4 linked regions of the Homo sapiens genome follow. The protein of the gene in region 3 purifies or fractionates together with the protein of the main gene of each other region. This does not show direct contact. Each region holds a gene or a part of one and is shown on either strand. Other genes may lie near its edges.

Region 1 (7,030 bases), on a different chromosome or scaffold from region 3:
GCCTCATCCCCCTTCTGCTGGAGAAGGTGAACAGGAGTCAGTCAGCAATGGGAAGAGACCGTGTTTCCTCTTGAAATATCCCCAAGGAGGCCCCCTAGCAGTGGTGTTCATGCCCTCCACCCAGCACCCTCATCTCCAGTGGGTCACGAAGGGCCTCCTGGTGTTCGGGGTAAGGGGAGAGACCCATTGGCATAGAAACAGCACAGCAGGTGGGGGGTCCTGTCACCTGTGGTGGTGCTCCAGGCAGAGGGGATGGCGGGCCACTGCACACATCCAAACCTGGAAGGGTCCAGACACTAGTGAGTGAGGCCCAGCAGCCCAGGCCCTCAGCTGTGCTTTCAGCCACATCTCCCTCCCCGGGCTATCCTCCCTTTGCAATCTCAGGCCTGGAAGATTTGCTGACTACCTCCCGTGTGCCAGGTTCTCAGGTGGGCCCTCACAGAATGTTCACAGAGACCACAGGAGGAAACTGAGGCACAGGGAAATCAAAGTCTCATGGCCAGGAAATGTCAGCACTGAGATTTGGGCCCAGGCTGCCTGGCCCCGACCTGAGCGTGCCCTGCCGCACTGATGAGGGCCGGTTGCCCTTCCTGGCACCCTCCCCCTTTCCTTGTTGGCTGGAGGGTGTGACTCTGGGTACAGCCTAATGAAAGGGAAGAAGTCAGACCCCAAAGAGGCCTTTCTGTATAAGCTCTTGAGGGCTTCTCTGAGCCTCCCTGAGCCAGAGAGGCTGTCCTAGTCCCCTTTCCCACCCAGCCTTCCTGACCCTGGGGTACACCTGCCTCCCGACACAAGCCCAAGATGCTAACAGAAAGTCTATCTGCCTCCTCTGGGTGGCCCAGCAAATGCCCCCCCTGGAGAGGGGTCTTGCTCTGGGTGTGAAGGGGCCATCAGAGTTCTTGAAGGGGAAGCCTGCAGGCTGGGAGGCATGCTGATCTGTCCAGGCTGAGCTGCCACCCAGAGCGAGAGGCAGGGCAGGAAGTCCCCGGGCAGCTGGGCCTCACCTGGCGGGGTGGGGACTGTAAGTGAGTTGCTCCGAGAGGATGTAGGAGAAGCGCTGGGGCTGAGGTTCGGGGAAACAGCTGTGAAGACAGACACAAATTGGCTGGCATTCATGAAGGTTTAGGACTTCAACCTGGCAAAGGCATCCTTTTAGGTATTCCCAGGCCCTGGGAACTGGGTCTGCCTTGCTGGGCTCAGGGGCTGATGCTGGACTGCAATATGATGCTCCTGTTACAGCCCAACCCCTCCCTGCTGCTGCTCAAGAGATGGGTGCCCTCAGGCCATTTGGGGGTTCGAGGATAGAGTCACACTTCTCAGCCTGCCTGGCCTGACCTCAAGGCACTGTCCAGAAACTGAGGCCTGGCGTTGGTTGGCAGGTACAGCTCCAGAGGCTGCTCCTTCTCGACTTCCCAGGGTGGCCCTGACTTCAAAAGCTCCCCTTGTCCTCCTAAGTACACTTACACACTTGCCCAACTTTTTGCTCAGGAAGAAAAGTGACTCTAGCATAGAGGAAGCAGGAGGATTTCTGGGCCCAGGAAAACCTTCCCTCTAACCCAGAAATTCCCCAAAGACCATCTCCTCTTCCCCAGAGGGCCTAGGATCCTTCCCAGCACCCACAGAGATCAAGGGAAGGGAGCCCAGGACAGAATCCTGACCTCTGCTGAGGAGAGCAGGTGAGTCCAAGGCGACCTCCTCGGAGGTGAGGCGCCCACTGCAGCTGGTGCCAGGCCCTTCCCTCCCGACCCTAGAGGGGCTCAGGGCAGCCACCTGTACATCCTGCCACCCTACCTGATGGGGAGTCTCCGGGGCTGCTCCTGGACTTCCTCCCACGGCGGGTCAGGAATCGCTCACTCACCAACTTGGCTTCTTCCAGCAGCGCCAGGTTTTTCTTCTTGTCCTCCTCTGAGATGCTGATGTCTGGCAGCTGGTCATTCACCAGGTCAATGATGTGCCCCGCGGGGTCTGCAGAAGGAGGATGAGCTGGGGTGAGAGCCACTGCATCCGTGGCCCCAGGCTGAGGTCATGCCATACCATGCCTCATCCCAGGGACTCTGCCCACAGCTGACCCAGCCAGCCAAACCTCAGCCCAGTGCCATCAAGAGGGTTGCATGGGGACAGACAGTGGCTTCCTCTGCAGGCCTGGCCCCTATGGCTTATGGCCTGTGGTCCTCCGTCACAAATGGTCCTGGAGCCATCTCAGGTTCCCAGAATTTTCCTAAACTCTGTCAGGAAGGGAAGGCCACCCAGGAGCCTTACCTCCGGCACCATCTGCGCCCCCAGTGCATTCTTGCTTCTGGCCTGTTTCTTTCACAAGCTAATGCGCTTAAGGTTTGTGAATAAAAGAAGGAGACCAAAGATCATTGGCCACGGCCACAACCCCGTGGCCACCTTCCCTCCAGTCACATTGTTCACCCCATTTTTCTCCAAAACTGCCCCTCTGGATGAGGTGGGTGAACGGCACCACCTCTCACCTGGCTGCTCAGGATCACAGGAGTCACTCCCCACTTCTCCCTCTTCCTCCCTCCCCCAACATCCAATCAGTTGATCAAGTCCTCCCTGCATTTACCTATAAACATCTCTGGAGCCTGTTCCTCATCTCCATTCTTGCTCATTAGCTCTTTTTTTTTTTTTTCTTTTTTTGAGACAGAGTCTCACTCTGTGGCCCAGGCTGGAGTGCAGTGGCACAATCTCGGCTCACTGCAACCTCTGCCTCCTGGGTTCAAGTGATTCTCCTGCCTCAGCCTCGCTCGTACTTGTTAGCTCTTTCCTGGACAATTATGTCTTCTACCTAAGAGGTCCCTGCCCTCAGGCGAGCTCCTCCATCCCATCCCCCACTGCCTATCAGAGTGGCTATCAGAGCCACATCTGGCCATGCCATTCTCCACCTCATCTCATGGGGATTTCTCATGCTCCTCAGTGTGGTATCCAAACCCTAAACTGGGCTCAGCCAGTCTTGCTGGCCCCCACATACTCCTCCCAAGTCCCTCCACTTCAGCTGTGTCTGCAGTGAACAGCTCCCATTTCACCTCCATCGGGTTCCATTCGTCTTTGGGCAGCAGATCCTTGGTTTTCACTTGGTAAAAACCTCTCTGATTCCCCATTAGCTAACCCCCCTCCCCTGTGCCAAGAGTGGGAATGTGGACTAGTCTTGGCCAATCAATGAACAGAATCCCCTTGGCCACAGGGATTGGCTCGGGGATGGCCATGTGAAGCCATTGAGGGGCAATCCTGGTGTGGAGTATATGGGGAAGAAGAACTCTCCACTGATGGGGCGTAAGCTTGGAGTTGCTGGTAGCTATTGGCTACCATGTGTTGAAGAGTCTGCCAAGAAGAAAGCTAACACACAAGAAAAAAGGTTCAAGAGATGGAATGGGACAATTGCTAATAACCCACTTTGAGCACCTGGATCCAGCACTACCTGAAATCACAAGCCCTGGCTTTTGTAAATTTTTTTTTGGTGTGAGGTAGTTTGAGTTGGGTTTCTATCATTTGAAAAAGTCCCAATTGGTACACATGGCAGAGTTTCAGTTGCCAGCAACATGCTCCAGGGAGGTTCCTGCTCTTTCAGTGTGTTTCCTATTCCCCCTGGAATGCCTTTCCTCCCTCGCCTATCTGTCCAGCTCTCTAAGGCACAACTCAAATGCCACCTCCTCTGGAATACCTTCCTAAAACTTCCTCTCCTCAGAGAGACTCGGTCCCCTTCTTGCCTTGGCTGGCCTAGCTCTTCTGTGCAGTCTCTTATCATACAGTGTCCCAATTATCTGTTCATTTCTCAGTCTCTTCATAGTCTATGAGCAGCATGAAGGCAGGGACCAACTCTATATGAGATCTATGTTCCAACAGCCCAGGGCAGATCGTGAGCCACCATCTGGGGATGAGCAGATGACCAGGGCAGCCGGCCTTACACTCAGGCACCTACTCCAACCTGGATGTGGGCCTCTTTAGCAGAGGCTGGAGGACTCTGCCCCCTAAACCCCAGAAATGAGTTTCACTCAGCTGTTCTTTCTTTCTTTGACTTCTGCATCTTCCTCTTCATGCCCTGGTCTTGTCTTTTGAGCAATGAAAACTGAATTAAATATGCTTCTCCTAGACCCAGACACGGAGGGGCTGATCTACCCTGTCCTGTTGGACTTATCGGGAGGGAGCGCCTTAAAGAGCAGGAGAGAGGAAGGAGTCAAGCCCAGCCACGCTGCCAGACCTGTCTTTCTACTCAACATGCCTTAGATTGCCCTGGTCCTTACCCACAGATGTCAGGGAGGCAGTGGACACCTTCAAGTGTCGGTGAGAAAGCCTCTTGTGGGGACTGTGAACTCTGAAAGACAGAACAGTCATCTTGTTCAGAAAATCAATCCACAACTTGAAAATAGGTGAAAAGATGCCTGTATATTCTTTTTCTTTTTCTTTCTTTCTTTCTTTGTTTCCTTCTTTCCTTCTTTCTTTCTTTTTTTTTTTTTTTGACTCAGTTTTACTCTGTCACCCAGGCTGGAGTGCAGTGGCGCAATCTCAGCTCACTGCAGCCTCTGCCTCCCAGGTTCAAGCAATTCTCCTGCCTCAGCCTCCCAAGTATCTGAGACTACAGGCATGTGCCACCACACCCAGCTAATTTTTGTATTTTTAGTGGAGATGGGGTTTCACCATGTCAGCCAGGCTGGTCTTGAACTCCTGACCTCAGGTGATCTGCCCGCCTTGGCCTCCCAAAGTGCTGGGATTACAGGTATGAGCCACTGTGCCCAGCCAGATGCCTGTATATTCTTTCAAAGTCATCCTAGAACATCATCTTACAAGCTTCTCGAGGGTTTCTCTGACTCTCAACTTGGGAACGTCTTAGAAATGCAAATTCTCAGGCCCCAACTCAGATCAGAAATTCTGGAGGTGGGCCCAGCCAGCTATGATTTTACAGCTCTCCAGGTGATTCTGACGCGTGCTAAAGTTTTCCAACCACTGCCCTAAGAGGATGTGACTTTGACTTACTATTTCCTACTCATTAGGTCCCAGACTCTGAGCTAACATCTAACTTGTAGAAGCCTCATAAAATGTAAATCATTGTTGTCTGACAAAGACGCAGATGATTTCTGTTTGGGAAAAAAGACAAAAATATGGTTTCATTGCCCTGTAGAACATTCACCTATTTTATATCTAACTTAGCAGTTTTATTCCAGCACTTTCCTCCCCACTGATGATATATGTATATCCATTGCTTGTATCCTCCTTTGAACCGGCTTTGTTATCCAGATGCTTCTTGTATTAATGAGGTAAGTAAATCTTTGACATATGCTCAGTATATTTATATGAGAATTATCTTTTTCCTTTTCTTTTTCTTTCTTTCTTTTTTTTTTTTTTTTTGAGACGGAGTCTCGCACTGTCGCCCAGGCTGGAGTGCAGTGGCGCGATCTGGGCTCACTGCAAGCTCCGCCTCCCGGGTTCACGCCATTCTCCTGCCTCAGCCTCCCGAGTAGCTGGGACTACAGGCGCCCGCCACCACACCCGGCTAATTTTTCTGTATTTGTAGTAGAGACGTGGTTTCACTGTGTTAGCCAGGATGGTCTCGATCTCCTGACCTCATGATTCACCCGCCTTGGCCTCCCAAAGTGCTAGGATTACAGGCATGAGCCACTGCGCCCGGCCGAGAATTATCTTTTTAACTTTTTGAAAATTAGACAGTCTCATTTCAGCGAGCCCAGTTCGTGGGCTAGTGCTCTGTGAAACCAAGGCGGAGACATTCCTCTACCTGTGAGCCCATGTCCCTGCCAAGAGATCATATTTCACACGTTTTGGCCAGGGGCAGGATTCTACATTCAAACACCTGCACCTTTCATGTTTGGCTGCAAATAGCTGGACAGTTATTATGGGAAACTCTCCTGCGGTGATTTATGCTTTTCTTAAAGGCTAGCCCTTTCCATGGGGGAACAAGTCCTTCTGGGGCCCCTGGGCATTAAATGTTTTAACCTCCACTAGCCCTGCTGGGGGAGGAGGCTGCAAATGGGCTGGAGCCGTCGCAGAGCCAAAAGGACCACATCCAGGAGAGGAAAAATCATTTTAGGAGGAAGATAATGGAAAAATTCCTATTTCTATCTTGTATTTTGAAAAACTGCTTGATTATAGTTTAGTCAATAAAATGATACAAGAAAAAAGAAAAGATTTATTTAAAAATATAGCTGTCTGATCCTCATGTTCTAGGAAATATTGTTTGTCACAATGCAAGGATCAGGCACCTGTACCTGTTGGCCAGGTTTTTGTCGGTTTCTCCTTCTGGTGAAGTGGCATCCCCAGTCAGGACAATCGTGGGAGTTGGACTGCAAGATACTCCTGCGGCAGGAGGACCCTGCCGGTTTAGAACAAAAACACAGAGTTAGGCTTGGGCTGGTGGGACTTCCAGGGACAGGAGCCAGAGCATTTATTCTCACATCATGATGCTCAGAGCCATCTTGATAAGGGGACAAATGCAGTTTACTCTTTATTCCCCCAGCTTTATTGAGGTATAGTTGACAAATAAACATTGTATATATTCAAGGCACACAATGCGATGTTTTCATTACCTTGATACAATGTTTTGATACAATGTGACATATTCACGGCATACAGTGTGATGTTTTGATGTGAAATGATTACCACAGTCAGGCTAACTAATATATCCACCAACTCACATAGTTACCTTTTTGTGTGGTGGACAATACTTAGCAAATTCCAAGTATACAATACATTATTAACTACAGTCACCGTGCTGTACGTTAGATCCCCAGAACGTATTCACCTCATAACCAAAATAGTAAGTTGAATTCTTTGACCAACATCTCCCCATTTCTCCCACCCCCAGTCACTGGCAACCACCATTCTACTCTCTGTTTCTGCAAGTTTGACCTTTTAAGATTCTACATATAAGTGAGATCATGCAGTATTGTCTTTCTGTGCCTGGCTTATTTCACTTAGCATAGTGTCCTGCAGGCTCACCCACATTGTTGCAAAAGGTGAGATTTCCTTCTTTTTTTAAGGATGAATAATATTCTTGTGTGTGTGTGTGTGTGTGTGT
Region 2 (7,390 bases), on a different chromosome or scaffold from region 3:
TGCTTTGCCTTGTGAAGTTTATAATGAGATAATGAAGGTAAGGCATTTAGCATACTGCTTGGCACATCATATAGGCTCTCAGTAAATGGAAGCTACAGTGTTTGGTTAATATTATTAACAACCGCCAAGGAATCATGATAAAACTAGCCATGTTTTGATATGATAAAAACTAGCCATGCCTGCCCCAGAGCTGCTCCACATAGCATCTCAAACTCTCTTTAATCACAGCTCTAAGTATGTGTTCCCTGGGAAGACAGGATGCAATCTGGAGCACTGTCACACAGGACATGCCCTCTTTAATCTGATAAGCAGCTGTGGGTGAGAACTAGCCTCCAACTAACCGGAGTAACCAGACAGCTAAGACAAGTTCAACTCACCTCTCCTCAGGCATTTCCAAAGCTTTCAGGGAAGGAAAAAAAATAAAACACACAGAGAAAATAGAAAAATAGGAAATTCCGGGACTTCCTGGAACAAAGGAGAGAATCTCAGTGTCTTTTTACCCCAAGGCTTACGTAGAAACTCAGCAGCCACATGGCTTCTGCAATTACTCACATCCAAAAAGTTTTTACTAATTTCTTTCATCAAAGGTAACTGGAATTACAAAATGAAACCTCCAGAACAACGTAACATCATGCACAAAAGCACTGTGGATATGCAGCCAAGCTTGAAAAAGGAGACTTTAGGTCCATTGTGTCAAAGCCTTGAAAACCGGGGCCACTGGAGGAAGGGTGCTCAGGACGGCACAACCACAGTCGCTCCAGTAGGGCCAGCATCTTATCTGCCCATCTAAAGACAAGCTGCATGTGAGTCAGGAGTAAGTCAATGTGACATATACTCACTGACTTCATTCACTTGCCTACAAGATTATACGTCACTTAAAAGTGCTAGAGATTCGACAGAAATAACCTGATAAGGAATGTAGGAACTCTAGTTTGACAAATATCCAGAGGCACCAACACAGGAACCAAACACAGGCGAGACACACATGTGTAATTTTTTTTTTCTTTTGAGACAGATTCTCGTTCTGTCGTCAGGATGGAGTGCAGTGGCGCGATCTCGGCTCACTGCAACCTCAGCCTCCCGCGTTCAAGCGATTCTCCTGCCTCAGCCTCCCGAGTAGCTGGGACTACAGGAGCCCGCCACCACGCCCGGCTAATTTTTGTATTTTTAGTAGAGACGGGGTTTCACCATGTTGGCCAGGATCTCTTGACATCGTGATCCGCTCGCCTCGGCCTCCCAAAGTGCTGGGATTACAGGCGCGAGACACCGCGCCTGGCCACGTATGTGTAATTTCTAAAGGTTTCTCTGCCCTTGGTGTAGGGAAGAATGTTTGAAAAAAAGACCATTGAGAATACTTCAGGTAAGTTTTTTTTTTTTTACACTTACAAAATGCTAAATGATCAGGGGTCAACTATCAAGTGGTACTCTGTAAGGCAACCTTAAAAACTCACTGCTGACCCAGGCTCGGTGGCTCACACTTTTGATCCCAGCACTTTTGGGAGGCTAAGGCGGGCGGATCACTTGAGCCCAGGAATTTGAGACCAGCCTGGGCAACATAGCGAGACCCCCTCTCTACAAAAAATAAGAAAATTAGCTGAGCATCGTGGCCTGCACCTGTGGTTCCAGCTACTTGGGAGGCTGAGGTAGGAGGATCACTTGAGCCCAGGAGGCAGAGGTTGCAGTGAACCAAGATTGCGCCACTGCACTCCAGAACGAGACCCTTTCTCAAAAACCACCATCAACAACAACAAAAAACCCCACTCAATGCTGTCTTGGCAGTTTTCAGTGCTCAATGAGAAAACCTACTCTTAATGGAAAAAAAGTGGGGGAAAGGGGTTCCAGGAACTACAAAGCAAAGTGTGTCTTGGGAAGTTAGCTTTGTTGCACTCCAAATAAAAATTTGGCATTGGGTGGTAGTTATGCATACTCTACGCATCGACAATTCTCTAAGGACTCCAAAGTGCATGTCCTGGAAATTCCAACATATTTGCACTACGTTCCAGGTACACTAGAATGTTTATAGCCATGTTCTGAGTGGCCTCAGTCTGAACAAAATGCCCAACCAGAGTAGAATGGATTCACTGTTCTATTCACACTGGAATACTAGGCAACAATTAAAATTACCTATACATACACAGTACACCAATTTAATACTGATTGAAAACCACAAAACAACACACTGTGATCCACCCGCAAAAGTTCAAAAACAGGCAAAGGAAAACGACATCGCATGCACACATAGATGGTAAAGCTGTAAGGAAATGATCACACTAGTCAGGCTAGGAGACAATCAGGCTCCGAAAGGAGCACAGGGCATGGGTGAGAAACTCCTGGGGTGCCGGTAATGCCCTTTTCGTTTTTATCTGGGTGTTTTATTAATTCTTCTTTAAACGTGTATGTCGTATGCACTTTTCTGCGTATGCTATATCTGTTAAAAATTTATCGGCAGCCCAGCAGACAGATTCGTGCCTCTAAAGAGGTGGAAGCTCCAGAACGATCCGCCTCGCCATTAAGCGAAGGCAACTCCGAACGCTGAGAAACGCAGGCCCGGGGTCGGCCGGTGTCCTTACGGATTGGCGAGCGGGCGCACACCCCTCCTGCATTAAGGAGAGTTCTCAGGGTCACGCTCCGAGCGACCCTAGAGGGAGCGGCGGTGTCCTCGCCGCCGCCAAACCCACCTAGAGCCGCTCTCCGCGTCGGCCCCTCCACCGTCGCCGGCGACTCCGGACAGCCGCGGGGCGATTCTGGGGCTTCCAGACGAGGGAGGGGCCCGGGGGGAAGGAGGCGGCGACTCCCGCCGCCCCGCAGAGCCTCGGCGGCCAGAGCTACCCCAAGAAGGCCAGACCCCGCCGTCCGCGGCTCCGCGGGCCCCGATAGGGTGGGCGTGGCCGCCGCGCGCCGGACGTACCTCTCCACCGCGAAGGAACTACCTCGCCAGTTCCCGGCGACAGAGGACAGATTATTTCCAGGACCGCTCCCGCCACCCCTCCCGGGCAACCCACTAGACGTCCCCTTTCTAATTTGGAGTGCGGGTGCGGGCGCACGCGCACTGCCGAGCTTCCGCGAGGGCGCGACCGGACGGCGGAGGAGGACCCGTCGCCGCAGCCTCCAGGGCGGAGCGCGTGCTCGCCTCGACACGCAGCGAACTGGTGGCGGGGGCGCGCCCGGCGGCAGCGGCGGCGGCGGCGGCGGCGGCGGCGGCGCGGCGGCGCGGGTCGGCCGGGGCGCGAGCGTGCGCAGTGGCTCCTCGGCCTCGGCTCCAGCCAGGGCGGCGGCGCTGGGGAGGAGCGGTGTGGGCGGCCGGGGGCGGGGACGCGGGGCGGCGGGCGTGTCCGAAGTCGCGCGCGGCTGGCGCGCGGTCCCGAGTGAAAGGAGAAGGAGGGGCGCTGGGGGTGACGGTGCGGAGCCGCTGCCAGCGCTGGGCGAGAGTCGGCGGCCGGATCCGAGGAGCAGGCGGGCCTGAGGCCGAGTCAGCTGCGCGGGCCCCCGGATCCCCCGACAGAGCGGCGGCGGTGTCTGGCCAGGCGGTAGGCGCTGCCTGGCCGCGGCGGGGAAGATGTTCAGCGTAGAGTCGCTGGAGCGGGCGGAGCTGTGCGAGAGCCTCCTCACTTGGGTACGTGGGGGCCGCGGGCCGGCGGGAAGACCCCCTCCCCCCGCCACCTACCGGGACCCTCCACGCGCGGCCCGTGGGGCGAGCGCTGCGGGCGACGGTGCCGTCACATCCGGGGCCTGGGGCGGGCGGGGCGAGGAGGCTCGGCCCAGGGTCCGAGAGAGACTTGCCGGGCCTGAGGCGTCGCTGTTCCGGGCGGACCCCGGCCGGGGCTGGGCTGGGAACGCGGCGGGCGACTCTGGGATCCGTGCGGCTGCTCGCAGCTGGGGCTGCGCTGCGCTCTGGGGGTGGCCGAGCCTGACTGCCCCGCGTCCAGGACCCGCCGCCGCTCCTCGCCTTTGTTGCCGCGTTCGCGGAGGACGGGCCCGGCTCCGGCCCGGGAACTGAAAGGACCTGTGAGGGAGCGTGGGGAGAATGCGGGAGGCGCCCGGGGACCCCGTTTCGGATGCAAGGCACCGCTGGCGGTGGGAGTGCGCGAGGGGCGGACGCCTGTCAGAGGCGTCGGGCAGACGTTTAAAGGAGTCTGGAGGTGTCTGGGCGTCAACAATGGAACTCGAAGGCCTTGGGGGACAGAGTCGTGGGATTCTGATTTTGAATTCTTAAACGGTTTTAGATTCCTCATACTTTGAAGTAAATACATGTTCACCTCTCACGTCAGCTGCCGCGCCTTCCTGAAGCCGGGTCTTCAGGACGCGGCAGGGGAACCGACGCCCGGGTTCCAGTCGTTCTCGCCGCGGCGCGGCCGGGGAGGGGGAGGGATGCGCAGAGCCCGGGCGGACCCCGCGCTGCCTTCGGGAGCCTCCGTTTCACTCATTGCTGAGAATGTTAATTAAATGTTTACGGATGTGTTTATGAAGGCTACTACAGCATTTGTATTACTTTTAAAGGTAAAACACGAATGTGAGAGAAATTCTCTTTAGCGGTGTCTTGGGTTACGAGTCAGGATCCCTGGAGTGTAGACGTCACGATCCTGTGCAAGGCACTTTGCTGGAAAGGCTGGAGAAGTATTGCCTTACGTTGGTTGTTAAAAAAATTAATAAAAATAGTCTGAGGTTTTTATAGTTTGGCTACGTCACGAATCAATTTCTGTCCTCTGAAACAGACTTGGTAGAGCTTGAGTAGCCAGTTGCATATCAGACCATTTAGGGGATTTCAGATCGTTAGCAGTAGTATGTAGTTAGCGTGCAGCTTACCCTTCTGATGAGTTCTCCCTCCAGGCAAGGAGATGGCTTTCACTGCTGTATTTCAGAAAAGAGGAAGACTGGTAAGTTGTATAATGTGGCTGAGGTTTCTGACTAGGCAGGGGAGAGAGAGAGAGGAAAGAATTACTAAATTCTTTGATGTTGTGGAAGGAATAGATTTGGCAGAATCTGTACATCTGTAAACAGAATGCTGAGGAACTTAAGATTTAAGTTTTTGAGACTGTGCAAGTAGTGCTTCCCTTTATGCTAGAAGAAGCAGCCAGAAGGCAAAGATGAAGCTAATTGAATCTAAGTAGGGCTACATTGTTTAAAATCTAGGGAGAAAGAAGACATGGAAATAAAGAGGTGTACAGAGGCTCCTTAACTTGCGATGGGGTTACATCCCGGTAAACCCATCATAAGTTGAAAATACCGTAAGTTGAAAATGCATTTCATACGCCTAACCGTCCAAACGGTAGCTTAGCTTGGTCTACCTTAAACGTGCTCAGAACACTTACCTTAGCCTACAATTGGGCAAAATCATCTACCACAAAACGTGTTTTATAATAAATTGTTGAATATCTAATGCAATTTATTGAACACTGTACTGAAAATGAAAAATATAATGGTTGTATGGGCACTCAGAGTATGGTTTCTACTGAATGTGTATCTTGCATCATTGTAAAGTTGAAAAGTCTTAAGTTAAACCATCCTAAGTTGGGGACCGTCTGTATTTGAAGGGTATCCACAAAATATGGTAGGTAGTAATTGCATTTATTTAAGTGAGAAATGCTGATAAAAATATACAGGAGAAATCTTAGAAGTTTGAAGGCCTGCTGACAGAACCTGACAACATGAGAGAATCTATTTAGAATCTCCTAAAATGTCAAGAAAACGAGTAATCCACATTATCAGCTGTAGAGAGGTCAGGGAGTATAGTATTGTAGAATAGGCTTTTTGAAATGTCACTGGAAACTCATCAATGAGAATTTCTGGATAAGATTAGAGATTATCAGTGACAAAATTGGAGGGCAGTGTTCATGAAGATGTACAGTTCTAAAATTTGGAAACACTTTAAAAGACATGTTTCAAAATAGAGTTTAAATGCTGGGTTTGTTCTCTTTTAGCTGTCATTATAAAAAGCAGAATAAATGTTTCAATGAGCAATGTTTGATGACATTTAAATGTATAATATCACCCCTCCTATCTGTAAGCCAGATTAATGCTAAGCACAATTCTAAAACCAAATGCAAGCAAAAATGTACACATACACTCCAAAGAAAAGACTCATTTAGATTAGTTTTCTTGATTTTATGTCAGCTTCTAGTCAGTTTGGTTGTGTGGGGGGTTTTGCTCTCACACAGTAAGCTAGAAGGTGACTGACACTCAGCAAAATGCAGACAACTGTCAGTGACAGACAAGATCTAAGAGCTGAATGATTCCGTCTTTGGGATGACAGCCTTATGTACTTCTAGAGCCTCCCTGTTCAAGTTTTGAAGATCATAATTATATTCCTGAGTATCAGATAAAAGTTTGTTTTCACTACATAGCATTTAGTTTGAGATTGGAGAGATGTATATAGTACATTTTAGAAATTATTCCACTAGAAATGGCTAAAGTAATAAAAGCTCAAGTACTTAAAGGGATGATTCTGTCACCTATACAGAACTCAATGGAACGTCTCATTGCCTCATATGCTAGATAAATTGCCCTTTTATCAGACAGCCTACTAGCCCAAGAACCATATGTTCCAAATTTTTTCGAAAGAGAGAGTTACAAAAAGAGTTAAGTATCATCTTACCAAGGGGAAACATCTTAAGCTTAAATTCCAAATCAAAGTTTATGCAAACAAGTTCAGCAGGACATGCTTGAAAATTTCCACTGTGCCTCCTCTCTCCACCCTCTGAGTCAAAATTTGCCCTGCCAATTACACCTGTGAAGCCTAATTTCTTGAACTGTATGTGAATCTCGATGAAAAGATAGCACTTTTCCAGGTTTTAGAGACTGAAAAACGAAGTCTACAATGCTACCAAGTTATGACAAAAAAAGTCATCACATAGGCTCGGTACACTTTGGGATAACCTAGCAACATTAATATGTCCTTATTGTTTTCATATTACTTATTTGGCAGCCTATAAAATGCATACTAGTATATAGAATTGGGGGTGGTATAATTATTATGGTGGTATCTCCCCCATTCCATTCTCCTCTGCCTAACTCGATTCTGCCAACAATTTTTGTCCTCTAATGGAAGAATAAGTCACTGATGTACAAAAGTTAAAGTACTTAAAAAGATAGTATAGCATAAGAGTACATACAGGTTCTGACATTAGGCAGCCTGGGTTCAAATCCTAGTTTTGTTCTATACTAACTGATGTGACTTTGTAACTTCACCTCTGTGTTTTGATTGCATTGATATTTAACTTTATGTTTGCTAACTTCACCAGAGATTCTCATGCTTTAGTGTTGATCTGCATCATCTGGAGAGCTTGCTAAAACACAGATGCCCAGAGTTGCTAGTTCTGTAGGTCTGGGCTGGGCCTGAGATTTTGTATTTCTAATAGGTTCCCAGGTGATGCCATTGTTGGTGACATAGGGA
Region 3 (7,030 bases):
TATAAAACTGAGTATTTACAAATGTATTCAGCATAAATGTAACCTTCGTGGGTGAATCAGAACTCATTAGCCATACCCACACTAATAATAATTATAAAAGGTAAATACAATTCCTTTCTTTCATTTGCTTATGCTGGTTGTTGTGGGTTGACATTCATGTGAGGAGGATGTCCTAGAAGACCAATTCTTTGTTTCTGCTTCCTTTGTTCTGTCATCTGGAAAGTTAAAAAGTTTCATCATTAGACCCAGATACTTCCTGTACGTCAAATCGCATACTGAACCATAGATTTACCTCTGTGGTTATGGTTTATACTGAAACCCACTTTCTACAAATAGTGTACCATCGCTATATCAAACACACAGCACTTCAAAAAAGGCATCTTCTTAGGCAGAATGGGAAATTCTGTGACCTAGTCATGCAATGTAACATTCAGAAGTATTGCTTGCCACTTGTTTCATAAAGAAACAAAAAACAATAAAAGCACAGGATTCTTTCTTGTTTCCCAAATGCACTTCCAAATGATTTGAAGACTCATTGGAAAATGGTGGCTTTGTACGATAGTAACAACACGCCATACTAACAAGAAAAGCAGTGTTTAGAATCCTAGGTTTGAGAGGGAGGGTTCGTGTCCACACTTTCAGTGGGTCCTGATTTTTCTCTTCAATGACTCTTGAGTAGTTGGTTAGAGAAAAAAAAAATTACCTACCATAACTAGGAAAATGAGAAATGTTCTCAAATCTCTTTGAGGTCCAGAATGATTAAATGCTGTAAATAATGCTGTGACCATTCACGGTATCTATTTCTTGCCACCCAGTAGACACTGAGGCTCGCTGAAGGTCAGGCGAGACCATTGCCTAAGACTAGTTCAAATGAAAAAGTACTTTCAAAATCCCAAACAAGAAGCCGATTCTATTCATTTGGTTGCTGAACTAAATATATTCTCATGTTGATGGGTCTCTAGACCTGTTCTAGGTATTTTAGGGCATACTTACTTCTGTCTCTGTATTAAGATTTTCCTTAACCCAGTTAGTCTTAGTTTTGGATTTTAGGGTGAGCATTCAAGTCAACTGAGATAAAAAGGCTATACGGAATATATATTCAAGAAAATTGTTGTCTGCAAGTGGGTTAAGGTCCTACTCCTATGTTTTTAGCTTCCTAAAATTGTAGAGGAATTAGGGTAAAAAGAATAAAGGCTTTGGAATCAGATCTAGTTTCTTATGGTTTTGTCATTTAACTTATCAAAGTCTGTTTTCTCATCCATACAATCAGGATGATAATTCCTAGCTGATTGGTGGAGAATTGCGAGGTTATACGCAAATTTATTAGCATAGCATCTGTCACATAGTAGATGTGACACTTAATCTCACTTTTCACATGAACTCATTTTTGGTACAAAATATCTGGAGAGAACATAAAACAAGACTAATTTACCTAGGTTCAATTTCAATGTGGTTATTTTTTCTTCTTCAAAACTAGCATTATCCTCTCAAATCAAAATACTATTTTTAGGCTCCTGTGGAGATGCTTTCTCTGTTATAATTTAGATGAGAAGACTTACAAGGACTTAGTATTTCCAAAAGGTAGCTTTTAATAAAGCTTTTAATTAAGAATTGGATTAGGAAATTCCAGCTAGCCCCTGAAGTTTCCTTAGGTGAGTGACATCTTTAAAGGAAGTGTTACACACTACACTGTATCCACAGATTCGGCTCAGGAAGGAGAACCTAATATGACACATGAAATAAATTCACAATTAGGTTAAAATGCCAGTAATTCATTCATCTTACTACCTGATAGTTCAGATGTTTAGCTCAGATTTTTCTCCCACAACCCTTCCCTTGGCAGGTAACCTTGAGAGGGAATCCAATACAACTTAGCTAAATTTGGATAATCTCAAGTGTTCAAATTGATTTAGAAATCTTGGTGTGCTCAGCCAGGTGCAGCGGGCTCACGCCTGTAATCCCACCACTTGGGGAGGCTGAGGTGGGCAGACTGCTTGAGCCCAGGAGTTCGAGACCAGCCTGGGCAACGTAGCAAAACCCCATCTCTACCAAAGGGGAAAAAAAATTAGCTAGGCATGGTAGCGTGCACCTGTAGTCCCAGCTACTTGAGAAGCTAAGAGTGGGAGGATCACTTGATCCTGGCAGGTGGAGGTTGCAGTGAACAGTGATGATGCCACTGCACTCCAGCCTGGGCAACTGAGATCTTGTCTTGGAAAAAAAAAAAAAAAAATCTTGGTCTGCTCAACCCTTATTGAAGGATACTTTACTCAAAGCTTATATTTAAAGCTGCTGAAATCTTTCAACTCAAAGTTGAATGTCAAAGTTGGCCATTAAGACTTTTTTCCCCTGTAATTTTGCTTTAAATAACTACTTGTATTTGAGATGACCTTTTAGTATGCGTATTTTCATCCCTGTTTGTTACATCAGCTCTCCTTGACTTTTCAATTTGTCAGTTAGTCTTTCTCTTCAACTTGAAGAAACCTCTGAAACTTTACAACAAAGGAGTCTTCAGTTGGTGGCCTGGCTTCCTTTTCACTTCCACAGCCGCGGCCTGATGCCTCCTCAGTTAGCAGCCCTATTCATCTGTCTTCATAAGTGATCCCATCGCCCACCCTCCCTCCGTCCCTATCCTTAAGGCTCCCCACTGATGTGGGTTATTGGCCAATTCTTTGCTCAGGTAGTCATATTCCTGATAATTTTAAGTACCAACTACACATCTAATGTTCTTTTCTGTTTCTCTAGAAGAATGGTTCTCAAACTTCAGCATGCGCCAGAATCACCCAGAACATTTGTTAAAACACAGATCAGAAACAGAGTTTCTGACTCAGTAGGTCTGGGGTAGGTCCCATGAATCTGCTTTTCTAACGATTTCCCAGATGATGTAGACGTTGCCGGTCTGGGGACTACACTTTGAGAACCACTGCTCTAGAAGAGGTTTTTCACTGATAATCTCCAAAATCGGACAAGATCATTTTGAGTATATACTTGAACACTTTTTTTAAAAAAAGTAATTTGTGTACATATATTATTTTTCTCAAATGAGGGAAGCTCTTGGAGAAGATTGTCTGCAACTGAGCATATAGTAGGCACACACATTTGACTGATACTCTTTTGATTAACCATGGCCTTTTAGACAGAATGGCTGTCATTTAAGTCAACATCACTGCCATTTAAGTGACTGCTAAAGGAGAAGGAATTGGGCAACTGCTAAAGTGTTTGGCCTTTTAGTAGCAGTCATCATCCAATTACAAGAGAACCAAAAAAAAAAAAAAAAAAAAACCCCTCAAAACCCTGAAGGACTAAATCTGACCTATAAGAAACTGAGGCCAACAATTCTGGACGCTTAGGTTTCTCCAGCCTCTTAGTGCATATTCTCACATAATTTCTGGTTTTATTAGTTCAATTCTTCTTATCTACTTACCTACCCCACCTACATACATTCACACGTACTATCTATATATCTTGTTATAAGGCATCATTATTGTCTGTTACTCTTACCTACATCAAAACAAATATAATGACCAAAGTCTATCCTTAGCATTTTTGTCAGATAATAGTCTCTCTGGACATCTGAAACAAAATTGACTCTTGAGTAAAAAAAATCTATGGTAACTGTATTCAAAATTCTAATATTGAAACATCTATTTTGAGTAGTGTGAGATGTCTCATTTATAGTACATTTAAAAATCCTCAAAACGGCTGGGCATGGTGGCTCACTCCGTAATACCAGCACTTTGGGAGGCAGATCACTTGAGGCCAGGAGTTCGAGACCGGCCTGGCCAACATGGTAAAACCCCATCTCTACTAAAAATACAAAAATTAGCCAGGCATGGTGGTACATGCCTGTAATCCTAGCTACTTGGGGGCCTGAAGCAGGAGAATCACTTAAACCTGGGAGGTGGAGGCTGCAGTGAGCTGAGATCGTGCCACTGCACTCCAGCCTGGGCAACACAGGGAGACTCCGTCTCAAAAACAAAACAAAGCAAAAAACCCAAACCAAACCTCAAAATTCCCATGTAGCTAAGGATAAACAGTTGTAGTAATGCTGTTCTTCACATCTATACAAATGTAGAAACTAGCTTGAATTTCAGCATTCCTCCTTTTGACTCATCTAAACAAGAAGCAAAGAATAGTGTAGCTTTACAAGTCAGATACAGCCAGACATCTGAAAGACTGTTCATGAAAACACGAGGCATACAGTAGAAATGGGCAAATTTTAATCTACCAGTATTGCCTCTAAATGATTAAAGGCTGGCACTGGAAGGAAAGTTCATTGACAGCACACAAATGCCACATTTCTGGTTTATAACACATCTTAATAGTCTTTGAAAAGCTGCTTTCATGTTACAGGAAGGTCTTGGTTACTCAGATTCTAAACAGCTAGCAAATTCTAGTAATCACAGTTATTTTCTACAGCCCTATAAAATCAGTCATGTTCAGAATGATGAGCCTCAAATACTGAGAAATGAAACCAAACCATCCCTTGAATACAAATATGTTGATTTACTATCAATGTATAGATACAATTCAGATTCTTAGAGTTGATCTCAAATGCTCTGTTTCTCTCTATTTCACCTGGCCAACTCTTACTCAGGCTTTGAAACCAAGCTCCTGAATTACCACCTCTGAGAAGACTTCTGTGGTAATTACTCTAATCCTCTCCCGAAGATCAGATTGAACAAATCACTCCCTTTTCTCCATTCCCAGAGCAATGTGTTCACAGCTCGGTTACACACTCACCAAGTTTAATTATAATTGATCTGTTTACTTGTTTCCCACTCTAGACTTTTAGTTCTTGAAGGCAGAGAAGAGGATCTATTCATCTTTGTAGCCCCAGTACCTAATGCCGCACCTGGCAAACAGGTGTTTCATATGTGTTGGCTGAAAGAAGGAACGGAATTAACCAGACCATACTGCCATTCCTTGAGCATGCCATGCATTTTCATGCCGTTGCTCATGCTGATTCCTTTCCTGGGAAGCCCCCTACTGCATTTCTCTGCCAGCTCAGAAGTCACCTGCTTGTAAGATTATAAAAGCTAAACTCCTTCTGCACTGCAAACTTCACACAGGACCACTACCTACCTACTTCTTTGTGCTCCATGAAACTATTCATGCCTCAAGTCATTCATACTGTATCAGATTGCTAGAGGTCTACTTCTTTGTCTTTCTTGCTAGATCCTGGATCTAGAGGGCAGATGTTGACTTAGTCTTCTTTTGTGGTCCCAGCACAGTATAAGGAACATAGATGCAGTACGGGTCGTTTAATATTCCATTTTCCAACTTTGGGCAGTTATTCTAATCTTGTGTTATGCCTTCTGTCCTTAAGCAGTTAATGTTAGCAAGATAACCCTCTTGTATGAAAAATGCCAAATGCTGTAACATGCTAATGTGATCTGAATTTTCAAGCACTTCTTGTATTCCTAGCAACAGCAAATAATGGTCGCTGTCCTATAGGAAGCCAGTCATATTTTCAAGAAAGTTAGCCCTTCTTAGTATTTGCTCTTTTGCATTATGAAGAAAACATGCAAAAGATTTTTAAGTTCTTACATTAGTTCTCCTCCTTGGAATAAGAATGTAAGAGAATCACATTTAGTGTTCAGAATCTCTTGGGAGGGGAAACTTCAAGATGAGAGGCATCGTTAAATAATACTTAGAATAGCAATCCTAACCAACCATTCTTGGCAATAATAGAAAAAGTGACACCACTAACCATAATTTTACTAATATCCTAACAAGAACTTTTTTCCCTCAGATTGATACATAACGAAACAATCAAAGAGGTAAATAACAGTAAAGATTTAGACCAAAGTCATCCACATTTAAGCTATCGTTGCTCGAGTCTGCTGGTTTTTGAATCAGAAAATCTAAAACAAACAACAACAACAACAAAACAAAAAAAACCTCTAAGTAATGGAGCAATTTTTGTGTTTTCTAGCACTTTTACTAGTGAATGGTATTCTTTCATAGCTGTTTTAAAAAATATCACAAGATTTCTTGGTCATTAATCATTCATGGAGCTTTTATTTTTTAATTCAAAATTTTTTCCCACAAAGGGCAAGAATTCTCACAATTACTATTTAAGAAAGAGCAGCTCTGTAACATATCTGCATTTTTTAATATCTTTTGCACATAAAGGGTTTTTAAACCTTTATGATTGCTATAACCAAACTTAATGAAATTCAAATCTATTCAACAAGTTGATTCTCAAATGCATTAAAGGTTTGTAGGACGTTACATAATCAAAAGAAAACACTGACTACTTCCTTTTAAAAGATGCAAATCCCCCTGCCCCCTCAAAAAAAAAAAAAAAAAAAAAAAAAAAAAGCAGCTATGCTGAATTTTTCCTGTAATTCTGAGTACCTTAAAACTTAAGTAGATCAATCCTGGTAAAAGCACTTGAGAATGTACTACTGGATTCTCATGCTTCTTTTTAACTTATAATATCTTCCAAGAAAAAAAACAGTTCAAATTCATTCACAGGGGAAGGGCTTTCTGAAGAGTGGTTCCAACTGCCAACTTCAAAATAAAAAATGCATAAAAGGCTGGAATCAAGCAGTTTAAACCATACTGGTTTTAATGTCACTTAATGAACCTTAGTCCATATGTAATCAAATTTTACATATTTTGTTTAAACTAAAACTTTGGCTTATCCAGAATAATCTTATCTTGGATTTTAGAAATGCCAAGTCTCTACTATGCTCACTTGTATAAAATGACAATGAATGTATCCTCCATACCATTTAAGTATATGATGCGACTTGACTTCTGAAACTTCAAGCTTTTTTTTAAAAAAAGAGTAAGAACTTAAACAGTCAACCATGAAAGGCAAACAGTACAGTGACATAACAAAGCAAATAAAAACACACACACACACCCCTGACTGGATGATCAGGAGCTCCTGCCCTGGCAATGCCTAAGAACCTTCTGGGCTCCTTTGGTATCCTCATCAAGAAAATAAGGGAATGAGGTGAGATGGCATCTGAAGTCTCGGATACTGTCCTATACCTCTATTCTTTTTTTTTTTTTGAGA
Region 4 (5,319 bases), on a different chromosome or scaffold from region 3:
TGGAGTGCAGTGGCGTGATTTTGGCTCACTGCATCCTCTACCTCCCAGGTTCAAGTGATTCTCCTGCCTTAGCCTCCCAAGTAGCTGGGATTTCAGGCATGCACCACCATGCCCGGTTAATTTTCTATTTTTAGTCGAGATGGGGTTTCTCTATGTTGGTCAGGCTGGTCTTGAACTCCCGACCTCAGGTGATCCACCCACCTCAGCCTCCCAAAGTGCTAGGATTACAGGTGTGAACCACCGTGCCTGGCTTCTTTTCTTTTCTTTTCTTTCTTTAAACCAGGTTATTTTCTACACAACATTTTTGTAGAGGTATGTATCCTCAATACTGTGTTTGCTGCATTGCAATGTCATTCCCTTCTTCTATGTGCTATCCCATTTGTAATCTTATTCCATTTTTTTTCACGTGTTTGGCTTTCTACTTAGTGGCTCCCATTTAATAGCTGTATGTTTTTTAGCCCGTTTCTCCAGATTGAAGTTTTTGAATACATACATGCAAGGTACAGTGTGAAAGCCCTTCGTATGCATTATTTCATATAAGCCATGCAACTCATTTTATTAATGAAGAAACTGAGGCTTAGAGAGGTCAAAAAACTTATTCAAGACCACACACCTAAGAAGTAGTAGAGCAGTGATTTGAACTTTGGCAGTCTAACTGCAGTAACTACACTCTTAACATAACTATTCAATTGTTAAGATCATATTATTTGTGTAGCAGGCTCTCAAACCAATAGAAAAAGCTTGGGATCCCTGTTAAAAAAAACCTGAGAAAGCCTGGGCTAGGGTTGCCGGACTTAACAAGTAAAAATACAGGATACCCAGTTAAATATGAATTACACATAAGCAACAAATACTTTGGTATGAGTATGTCTCATGCAGTGTTTAGGACACATAGTACTTAGACTAAAAATTGTACATTGTTGAAATTCATATTTAACTAGGTATCTTATGTTTTATCTGGCAACCCTAAGCTGGGCAGCTTTCCAGAGTAAAGACTGGGAGTTCGTCCACTGAACTGATATCAAAATGAATTTTGGTTCACTTGAAAATATCTTTGTCCTTTGGAGCAGAATTGCAGTGGTGTGTGAACTGTTTAAAATGATAAATCTCTATAGCACCTACCAAGAATTATGCCACGTTCACAAATTCTGTATCGATAATGGGGATAGATTTTCATCTGTTTATTTTTAGAGAGATCTTGTACTTAACTCACTAGTCTGGGATGTTTTATTTATGTCACCTAATATTAACTATTGCTAAATTTCACTTTAATAAAAAAGTAGATACAAAGACTCATTTTACTTAGCAAGACTGCAAATAAAACTAAGACATAAATTCACATGTTAGTATTGTCCAAAACAATTCCTCCAGCTATCAACCCACGGCAATCAATCCAGCAGTATCATTTATAGAATGATTACTAAAACAAGAATCATTTCTCAGTTACAAATGGGGTCATTAAGCCCTTGGGGCTCTTTGAAAGTAGAAGTAGTTTGCCTACTTAATCATCAGTCTACACAAAGGCAGAAATAAAAAGGAATGGAAATACAAACACAAAATGATTGGTTATTACCTGTTTTATAAGGAAACAAGAAAAAAAAAACAGTGGCTAGAAACAACAAAAAAGCAGTGGCTGGAACCCTACTGAATAGAGCTTAAAGAAGTACTGGTTACATTCACAGACACAGTAGCCACTAGCCAAGATATAGTTTATCTCCATCAAACTTAAATAGATAAAGTCAGTAAGTATGACCATCTTACTTTCACTATTTACGCTCTTTAAATAGTAAAGGTATCGGTTTGAAAGATACATAGAACCATAGGAACAGTGAATGATCATTTATAAAACAGCTCCTTTTCCTGAATCAATATATTGCTAAAATTCTTTCAGTAACCCTCCCTTTTTATATGATCACAGATCCCTCCACATCTATTTTATTTTAGTTATATAAAAATTATTAATAAACTTTGGTTTCCTTGCATTCGGTCCTTATATTTTAAAAAGTGATTAAAAACAGTACTGAATATGAATCACTTCTGCAAAGTTTAATGAGTGAGAAACATTCAACCAAGGTGATTTTTCCTTGGAAAACCCTACAAAAACTGAATTTTATAAACAGTTACTTATTTTGATAGATGTTCCATTTATAAATAGCAGCCATTACTTCACTGTCTACAAAATTGCAGGCTGTCACATTTTACATGTTTAGAATTCAAATGTTTTAAGATTAGATTTTCTAGTAAGAGTTAAAATAAAAACAAAGTTACACAGACAGGTTAGTTGTCCTATGCAAATAAAACAGCTGATTTTCATGATTTTGCTATTTAGACAGATAAGAGACAACCATTGGATTGACACTAATGTGTAGGATAACATATTTTTTGTTTAAAGAGGAAATGATAGAAACTTGGGGTGGGGCAGCTGCAGCAGGACTTGACTCTACTGAGGCTCTTCTGTGCTCATGGGACAAGCTATCGCAGGATGTTAGTACCGGAGAGGCCCTCAAGTTAAGACCTGAGCAAAGTGTGCTATTCAGAGAAGCTGAGCTATCCCTGCTCCCGGTTCTACTGTGGTGAATTGGTGTTTTCTGAGGTCTAGGCAACAAGAGCTCAGAGTAGAAGGAGTAGACATTTTCGGGAAGTGGGATGCTGGGCATGTCATGTTGCTCTAACAAGTGATTAATAGCACGGAAATGGGAGGAAGATGAATGTATTTTAAATGGATACTCCCTATGCTAGTCTTGGGAAATGACCTTCTTTTCTTGAGACGGAGCCTTGCTCTATTGCCCAAGCTAGAGTGGGATGGCATGATCTTGGCTCACTGCAACCTCTGCCTCCCGAGTTCAAGCAATTCTCCTGCCTCAGCCTCCCAAGTAGCTGGGATTACAGGTGCCTGACACCATGCCCGGCTAATATTTCTATTTTTCGTAGAGATGGGGTTTCGCATGTTGGCCAGGGTGGTCTCGAACTCCTAACCTCAGGTGATCCGCCTGCCTTGGCCTCCCAAAGTGCTGGGATTACAGGTGTGAGCCACCGCGCCCGGCCAAGGGAAATGACCACCTTCTGAAAGGACTCTGGAGCACATTAAAATCCATCACTCCCAGGCACATTTTGTTGCCTGCAAAAAGTGTGCCCAGGACCAGAAGTCCCAGGAGTCAGAACAGAGAAGGGCAACTTTGAAGTAAGGGGAGCTAACACTGTATCTTTCTAGGCAGGCTCAATGCTCCCAAAACTTCTGAGCAAGCTGGCCCAAGCTCTGGGACCATTCCTTAAACCAGAAGTCTGGGCATGGGCCCAAAAAGAAGGCAGGGATTGCTGCCAGAAAGGACCATTCACAGATTCACCTAGGGAAGATGGGTATAGGAGTTGGCGGGGGGGGGGGGTGGGGGGTGGGGGGTGGGGGTCAGCTCATAACAGGGCCAAGTCCTAAGCCAGAGGTGGTCATGGAGGGCACCAATATGCTTGCAAGTTAACTCCAGATAGCTGCCCTCCACTTAATTCTAGACACAACCCATGGGCTATACAGGTTGGACACCCCCTACCCCTCAATCTCAGGATATAAGAAAAACCTTTTGTTCAAATTTGCTCTCCCCATCCTGAATCTCCCAAGGTGACTCAAAATGTTCTGACCTAGTAATGAAAAAGAAAACCCTTTGAATGGATTTTGGCACAGCCATTCCAACCTGGGGACTTGGGCATGAACTCTGATTTGCTCCACACAGCTGTCTCTGGAGACTGAATGTTCAGCCTGACTTGCGTTGCTGCCTGCAGCCCTGGATTTAAAAACACAGGCTACTTAGTGAATAGAGTCCTTTTATCACTAAGTCAGACCCACTCCCAGCACAAGCCACAGGCATTAAGACCAGGACATCTCTTGACTGATCGTTCCTCCTCCTCCACACATGGTGTCAGACCTCTTCACTACAGAATCTCTACAATAATAGAAAGACACTTCATCTCGAGGTGCACACATAACCTGTCAGGCAGGTCCTGCAGTGGCTAAGAGATAACAAGGATCCCACTCCAGCAGCTGTTAAGACACTTGAGTTGTTTGTCCCTGTCTTCTTGATGCTGAGTGGAACCAATGAACAGAATTTTTGAGAAGAAAAAAAAAAAACAAATCACAGCATAGGTGAAAAGATGCCGAAATAATTGAGTTGTGGTGATCAAGCTCTGACTCTAGAAATGTAGTCAGAAACCACCACTCTGAGCCCTAGGGCAAGGAGCAAAGTGTATACAAAATCTTGCAAAACCTAGCACCAGTACTTCCTTATGAGGGCTCAAGAAAGCACACCTCTAAAATAACTCACACACATGCAGACAAGAATGCCAGGAAGGTCAAATGTTCTCTGCAGCTGTTTCTTCACAGCTCTACTGGCAAACTCACAGGCACATATTTGCTCAGTTGCTGAGCCTCACCCACAGACATCTCCTACCTTGGAGGCAGAGGTGAGAACACTGGACTGCATTTTCCCAAGTAAGGGAAATCAAATGAGTTGGAGGTAACACTCTACATTTCTCCCTCTCCTTAATGACAGCATCCCTAATTAAGCCAGCCTCAAAGGATAAAATTAGTGTCTAGAGGTCAAAGGTCAAGCCCATGATTTACAAATCTTATTGGAAGTCATATAAACTGCTTACCTGAAATAAAACCCCCCATCATCAGTCCCCACCCTCCTTTCCCTAGAAAGGGAGTGGATTTAAGTTCATTTCTTCTTTTTCACCACAGTAACTGGAAGACAGTCAGAGAAGGTAGTCGGGGAGGGAGGAACATTCTGATTCATCTTAAAAAATAAAGATCTGCTTAAGTATCATTTGCAGTCATATCAAGTTTTTTTCAATTCTCCTTAGTGGCCGTCTCCAAGGGTTCATCTTCTAAGCCAAAGCTTAGCTTGTCAGCTAGCCCCTCAAACTGCTTGCTCACACTGCCCGCAGAGTCCATGAACATGTTAGGAATGTCTTTGCCAAAGTAAATCTTGCTGTTGGAAGCAATGGCCTTGTACTTCATCAGCTGCAGATATTCAGGGGTTAGCTTCAGCTGTTAAAAAAAAAAAAAGTATGGAAGACTTATGTTGAACCATATTAGAGAAGGAGGGGAGTGGTGCCCCTTCAATTTTCCTATATTTATGCCCCTACCTACTTTTTGTGGTCTCATTGTTACATTTCTGTAAGAGACAGTCATCTCAGATCTTGGAGCATAGGTGCAAAAGTTAAAAGTTTCCATGTTTAACACAAAATTAAACTAAACTTCTATCAAGGCATGTCCAAGGAGAAGGAAAGTACCTGCACCACACAGCAAAGGCATCCTCAGTTCTGCCC

What was found.
Region 1: the proteins of ITPR1 (region 3) and IRAG1 purify together in Homo sapiens (affinity purification with western blotting; 2 studies listed by BioGRID and IntAct, with this or other methods). This does not show direct contact.
Region 2: the proteins of ITPR1 (region 3) and RNF170 purify together in Homo sapiens (affinity purification with western blotting, with the first as the bait; 2 studies listed by BioGRID). This does not show direct contact.
Region 4: the proteins of ITPR1 (region 3) and ERLIN2 purify together in Homo sapiens (affinity purification with western blotting, with the first as the bait; 4 studies listed by BioGRID). This does not show direct contact.

The regions. Positions count from the first base shown.
Region 1 is NC_000011.10:10,627,747-10,634,776, forward strand, and holds part of IRAG1 (inositol 1,4,5-triphosphate receptor associated 1), read right to left. Parts: intron 6,326-7,030; coding exon 6,222-6,325; intron 4,316-6,221; coding exon 4,245-4,315; intron 1,966-4,244; coding exon 1,792-1,965; intron 1,083-1,791; coding exon 1,005-1,082; intron 280-1,004; coding exon 227-279; intron 18-226; coding exon of another isoform or gene 15-17; coding exon 1-14.
Region 2 is NC_000008.11:42,893,576-42,900,965, forward strand, and holds the start of RNF170 (E3 ubiquitin-protein ligase RNF170), read right to left. Parts: upstream 3,031-7,390; 5' UTR 2,909-3,030; exon of another isoform or gene 2,622-2,908; intron 1,533-2,621; exon of another isoform or gene 392-1,532; coding exon of another isoform or gene 378-391; intron 1-377. Other genes in the region: HOOK3 (protein Hook homolog 3), read left to right, coding at 3,557-3,613. UniProt on the Homo sapiens protein: E3 ubiquitin-protein ligase that plays an essential role in stimulus-induced inositol 1,4,5-trisphosphate receptor type 1 (ITPR1) ubiquitination and degradation via the endoplasmic reticulum-associated degradation (ERAD) pathway.
Region 3 is NC_000003.12:4,839,324-4,846,353, reverse strand, and holds part of ITPR1 (inositol 1,4,5-trisphosphate-gated calcium channel ITPR1), read right to left. Parts: intron 216-7,030; coding exon 129-215; 3' UTR 1-128. UniProt on the Homo sapiens protein: Inositol 1,4,5-trisphosphate-gated calcium channel that, upon inositol 1,4,5-trisphosphate binding, mediates calcium release from the endoplasmic reticulum (ER).
Region 4 is NC_000008.11:37,753,634-37,758,952, reverse strand, and holds the end of ERLIN2 (erlin-2), read right to left. Parts: intron 5,039-5,319; coding exon 4,838-5,038; 3' UTR 531-4,837; downstream 1-530. UniProt on the Homo sapiens protein: Component of the ERLIN1/ERLIN2 complex which mediates the endoplasmic reticulum-associated degradation (ERAD) of inositol 1,4,5-trisphosphate receptors (IP3Rs) such as ITPR1.